Linked DNA regions of Homo sapiens: region 2 is linked to region 1. The links come from fine-mapping of genetic effects on gene expression. A gene starts in region 1. The other region holds a variant in brackets. All regions are shown on one strand. Distances are between the middles of the regions. Region 1 holds the start of TUBGCP6 (tubulin gamma complex component 6). Region 2 overlaps TRABD (TraB domain containing).

Region 1 (2,892 bases):
CACGCCACTGCCAGTGGTGAGTGACCATGCCACGCGGCAAGGCAGGTGCTGGGGAGCCCATGGATGTGTACAGCTGCTGTTTGCTGGCATTGTCATGATAGCAGGCCTCTGGTCCTTCCTGTCTCCCTGCTCCTACTCCAGGGGCCCTGAGATTGGGAGGTTGGGAGGCCAGAGCCAGCAGGTGTCCGTAGATGAGGAGCTGGGCTCTGCTGTCCCCACAGATGACCGGTGGTTTCCTGAGCTGCATCTTGGGCTTGGTGCTGCCCCTGGCCTATGGCTTCCAGCCTGACCTGGTGCTGGTGGCGCTGGGGCCTGGCCATGGCCTGCAGGGCCCCCACGCTGCACTCCTGGCTGCAATGCTTCGGGGGCTGGCAGGGGGCCGAGTCCTGGCCCTCCTGGAGGAGGTAAGCTGGGCAGGGTGGAGGTGCTGCGGGGTGGGACGAGGGAAAGGACCAGTGACTGCTTCCGTCTTCGCCCCTGGTCCAGAACTCCACACCCCAGCTAGCAGGGATCCTGGCCCGGGTGCTGAATGGAGAGGCACCTCCTAGCCTAGGCCCTTCCTCTGTGGCCTCCCCAGAGGACGTCCAGGCCCTGATGTACCTGAGAGGGCAGCTGGAGCCTCAGTGGAAGATGTTGCAGGTGAGGCTGACTGCGGAGGCATGGCCCTGCCCTGGGGCCTGGCTCTGCCGCACAGATCGGTGGGGAGGGCAGGGCAGGGGAGTGCCCTGAACCAGCTCCAGCGCCGGAGGCCAACTGCGCGCCTCTTCTCGGCTCCTCCTGTAGTGCCATCCTCACCTGGTGGCTTGAAATCGGCCAAGGTGGGAGCATTTACACCGCAGAAATGACACCGCACGCCAGCGCCCCGCGGCCGCGATCCGGACCCCAAGCCCACGGCTCCCTCGACTCTGGGGCACGGAACCCCGCCCACTCCCAATCCCCGCGCCCCGCCCTCTCCCACCCGTGCTTCCCCCGCTCCACCCCTCACCTCACCTCGCCCCCGCCCCACCCATCGCGCCCCGGCCCGTCCCATCGAGGCCCATGCAACCCACGCTCGGTCCCGTTCCGGCCCCTGCGCCCCGCTGCGCTTCGCTCCCCGCCCTTGCGCCGTTAGTAAACATCGCTCAAACGAAACGCTGGCTCTGCCTCCTTTACTGAGCACGCTCGGCCTCGGTCTCTCACCCGCGGTGCCGGACTCAGGCCGGAAGTATGCCGCGGCCCAGGCCTCACCAACTTCACGCGCTGCCGGCGTTCCCGTGACGTATTTCCGGCGCGCCCGCCCTAGTGCTCTTCACACTGGCGCGGCTGTGACGCGACGGAGGCGGCGAGAGCGGCAGCCGTGGGCACTTTCCACGGGTGAGGCCTGGAGAACGGGTGGACGTGCAGGCCAGAACCCGGGACCCACCCGGCTGAGCCCCCAGACTCTCCGCTGCCCACGACCCTCGGAGTGGCACCCTCTCCTGGCCGTCTCCTCTCGTGGGTCCCGAAGAACGGGTGCAAAGCCGAGTTCGTCCGCTGTACTGCGCGGGCGCGCGTTTCGTTCTTCGGTTTTGCCACGGTTCTGTGACTCCCTAAAGGTTGAGGGCTACTGAATTAGAAGAAACGCCGAGCTGGCTTCTGGTGGGCTGCCGGGCGCCGGGCAGCGTGCTTGGACTGGGGAGGGCAGGGCGTGTTTACTCTGAGTAGAGCAACCGCAAGACCTCCTTTAAAAAATACCAGTTCTGAGCTTCGGCATTGGAGAGGCCGCCTGTCATTCAGCCTCTTCGGACCCTCTCTCACTCCCTGTCTTCCGGAGCGTGAGTGAAGCCCGGGTGAGGTGTTTTCCCACACGCCGGGGGCCCGGAGCTGAGAAGGGGCATGGCCAGCATCACGCAGCTGTTCGACGACCTGTGTGAGGCCCTCCTGCCGGCTGCCAAGACTCACCTGGGCCAGCGCAGTGTGAACCGGAAGAGGGCAAAGCGGAGCCTCAAGAAGGTGGCCTACAATGCTCTTTTCACAAATCTTTTTCAAGATGAGACTCAACAGCTGCAGCCTGACATGTCAAAACTACCAGCGAGAAACAAGATCCTCATGTTGTCCTTTGACTTGAGAGTGGGTGGCCTGGGCCCCAAGGCCGACCGTTTGGAGGAGCTTGTGGAGGAGCTGGAAGCAGCCCCTTGCTGTCCGCTTTTGGAGGTGGGGTCTGTTTTGGACCTCCTGGTTCAGCTGGCAGGGAGTGGTCCCCCTCAAGTTCTGCCGAGAAAACGAGACTACTTCCTTAACAACAAGCATGTGGGGAGAAACGTTCCGTACAGCGGCTATGATTGCGACGACCTGAGTGTGTTTGAGATGGACGTTCAGTCTCTGATCTCCAGAGAAGAGTGTTTGTGTCACAGCATGATCCAGGAAACACTTCAGGTTATGGAGGCTGCTCCAGGCACTGGCCTGCCCACCGTCGGGCTCTTCTCATTTGGTGACCCTTGTGGTGACAGGTTCGAGAGAGACACCCGGGTCTCGCTCTTCGGGGCCCTTGTGCACAGCCGCACTTATGACATGGACGTCCGACTGGGCCTGCCCCCCGTGCCAGACAATGCGGACCTCTCTGGGCTGGCTATTAAGGTAGAATGTTTAGTTTTTCCTCTTTCATCTCTCTCGGGGTTTGGAAAATGCTTCCTGTGACCTTTCTTCTTCTTCTTCTTCTTCTTTTTTTTTTTTTTTTTGAGACAGTGTCTCACTCTGTCACCCAGGCTGGAGTGCAGTGGCGCGATCTTGGCTCACCTTAACCTCCACTTTCTGGGCTCAAGCAATTCTCGTACCTCAGCCTCCCGAGTAGCTGAAATTACAGGCACCTGCCACCACGCCCGGCTTAATTTTTTTTTTTTTTTGAGATGGAGTCTTGCTCTGTTGCCCAGGCTG
Region 2 (2,892 bases), 52 kb after region 1:
CCACCCCAAGGACGCCGCCGGGCCCGCTGGCAGCCTGGGCTCTAGAACCCTCCTGGGTTCTGAGAACTGAACAGGTGCAGAGCACAAGACTCCTGACGAGCGTCACACTCCACAGGCTTTGCCTGCCCAGTGATGGGAACACCGGCTACCACCTCTGTGAGCTGCACGGCTTCGAGAAGCCAGGGCCTCAGGAGTCCTGTGCCCCATACACCCCATGAGGGCGACCTTGGGGGTTGCTGTGGATGAGGTTCGGTGTGGGGGACAGTGGGGGCAGGTGCCGCAGGGGGCTCAGCTAGGGGAGGGGCTCTGAGGCGAAATGGGCCCCCCCACCCCACTCAGGAGGGACAGGCTGAGGCCACAGCAAGGAGGGACTCCCGTGCCGCTCACACTGCTTGTGCTCACGAGCCCCCCATGCCCAGGGGCCTGCCTGTGCTGCTTGCAGCCCCTCCAAGAGGCTCCACTGCCAGGCAGGGCCCAGGAGCAGCTGCTGTTGGGTGGCACCAGGCCTAGCAGCACCTACCTCAGGTCTCGGCCAGGGCCCCTGCTCACCACAAGCTCCAAGCCCCTGGCAGTGGTTGGCTGCCTCCCCCTCCTCCCTGACTCAACAGCCCAACACCGGGGAACGTGCCAGGACCCTGAGGGACACGTACACAGGTTCTGGGGGTCTCCAGAAAGCACCCTGGGCACCGGCTCTGAAGCCTCTGACGGCACAACAGGTTCCACGTTGGCCTGCAGGTGGAAAGGAGAGTTCAAGTCAGGGTCCATGCACCCCAGAAAGCCAGGGCTCCGTGGCAACTCCACGGACCACGTACCCTGGAAAGGGACCCGTGGCCGCTGTGTGGACCACACACCCTGAAAAACGAGGGCCCGTGACCGCTCCACGGACCACGTACCCGGGAAAGGGACCCGTGGCCGCTCTGTGTACCACACACCCTGAAAAGCAGGGCCTCCGTAGAGCCTAGGCCCCACACTGTCAGTACCCCTCCTGCTTGGCCATCACTGGCACGGCTGCCATCAAGCTGGGCAGACAGGGCCACCAGGCCACCTCAGCCCAGCGCCCCTCTCCCTCGGAGGTGCCTCCTGCCTGACCCTGGAGAACCCTGTGAAGATCACCTTTGCAGAACAACAGCCAGGGACCGACCCCGAGAGCCCACAAAGCGGGGAAGCCCCCCGCCCCTGTCTCTGTGCAGCCAGCCCAGCCTCCACCTCACCTCGTGCGGTGGCTGCTGCTCCTCCCCGTCCATGGCTGGGCGGCGGCTTCCTGCACCTGTGGGGAGCCTGAGGAGAGGCATGAGAGGCGGGGTTTCCACCTGGAGCCCCAGACCTGGCTCAGGACTCACTGCGTAGTGCCCTGTCAGTCTAGAACCATCTGTTGGGTGGGCCTGGGGGCTCCTTCCCCCATATCCCCAAATGCCTCCTGCCCATCAAAGGCTGCTGAGGTCCAGGGTC[G/A]GTTCAGGTCAGGCCCGGGTGGGGAAAGGCCAGCAGGTCCCCAGACACCCCAGCATAAACCAAACGCAGACGGGCCCAGGGCGGGTTGCTGGTGCACAGGCCTCACTCAGAACAGGGCCAGAGCTGCCCAACCCTCACTGCGGCACGGCGGGCACACATAGGAAGGCAGCCCTGGGGTCCACACATGATCTCAGGACACAGCAACGCAGCTGCTGACACATGGCAAGGACCCCAGGGCCTTTGTACAAAAGCCACTTCCCCTTTCAGTAACTACAGCCTGGGCAACAACACCGGCACAGAGTCAGTACAGACGGAGGAATCCACAAAGCACACAAATCAACGTGTTTGGACCTAAGACCTTCTCTCCCACTTTAAGAGACAAACATGGTGTGGAAGGAACCACGGTAGAAACCCGGACAGGCTGGGGCAGCCACACGAGGGGGCTGCCCCGAGGCATCACAGCTCCCCACAGACTCTCAGAAACCAGGAGCTCAGGCCGGGGGCCCAGGAGCCTGAGGGAAGGAAGAAAACAGCCAGGCGCCTGCAGCACCAGAGGCACGCACCGGCCAAGACCCACAGAGCATCGGCGAGACCTGCGCGGAGCCCCTCGAGGCGGGGCCAGGGACCAGCAGGCTGTCCTGAGACTGGCCACAGGCCCTGCTGCACCATGTGGCTCTTCCTGAATGTTCTCAGCCACGGAATGCCAGGAGTGACTGTTTACCAAGTTAATGGCTCATGCATGTCCTGGCGGATGGATGTGTCACCAGGCAGAATCATTAAAATATCCCAAACAGGCCAGGCGCGGTGGCTCACACCTGTAATCCCAGCACTTTGGGGGGCCAAGGTGGATGGACTGCCTGAGCTCAGGAGTTCGAGACCAGCCTGGCCAACATAGACCATCCTGGTGAAACCCCATCTCTACCAAAAATACACAAATTAGCCAGGCGTGGTGGTGCACACCCGTAATCCCAGCTACTGGGGAGGCTGAGGCAGGAGAATCACTTTGAACCCGAGAGGCTGAGGTTGCAGTGAGCCGAGATCCTGTCACTGCACTCCAACCTGGGTGACAGAGGGAGACTCTGTCTCAAGAAAAAAACAAAAGTAAAAAATAAAAATGAGCCGTTGGAAACCATTCTGAGCTGTCTAGTCGTGCAAGGTATTGTGGTTTTGTCTTGAAGCGTCTGCGTCAGTCAGACACGAGCATCTGGCGAGGAAACGACGGGGCTTGTAGGATGTGCTTCAGAGGGGCCACTGCCGGGTTCTGCACTGATGCCTGCGTGCATCTGGGGTCATTTTCATGTCACTACTGCTGCCCACTTCTCAGAACTCATAAGAAAAAGGAACAATGAGCAATAAGACGCTATGTCAGGTTCCTTTCCTCTGCAAACCCTGTTGGCACACAGCCACAGCAGGCACAGACCTCGGCCCCAGCCAGGACTCACA

Evidence for each region. PIP is the estimated chance that this variant, and not a neighbour inherited with it, causes the effect. A credible set is the group of variants that fine-mapping cannot tell apart.
Region 2: its variant is the best candidate, but not a certain one, in a credible set for the expression of TUBGCP6 in whole blood (TOPMed, PIP 0.65).

What each region holds. Positions count from the first base shown.
Region 1 is chr22:50,243,422-50,246,313 of GRCh38, reverse strand. It overlaps TUBGCP6 (tubulin gamma complex component 6), which reads left to right and starts at 1,291. Exons shown (of 25, transcript NM_020461.4): 1 at 1,291-2,595. The coding sequence starts at 1,855. HDAC10 (histone deacetylase 10) reads left to right here. Exons shown (of 20, transcript NM_032019.6): 17 at 1-16; 18 at 222-404; 19 at 487-639; 20 at 784-1,131. The coding sequence ends at 807. RefSeq lists a silencer at 919-988 and enhancers at 1,459-1,508, 1,919-2,198, 1,772-2,702.
Region 2 is chr22:50,191,413-50,194,304 of GRCh38, reverse strand. It overlaps TRABD (TraB domain containing), which reads right to left. Exons shown (of 10, transcript NM_001320485.2): 2 at 1,212-1,278; 3 at 651-729. The coding sequence starts at 1,244. Among named protein-coding and RNA genes, the nearest start is that of TRABD, 6.9 kb to the right of the region's middle. RefSeq lists enhancers at 1,566-1,655, 1,736-1,785, 2,546-2,695, 2,886-2,892 and a silencer at 2,346-2,395. The variant G/A (reference allele first, on the strand shown) is at 1,450.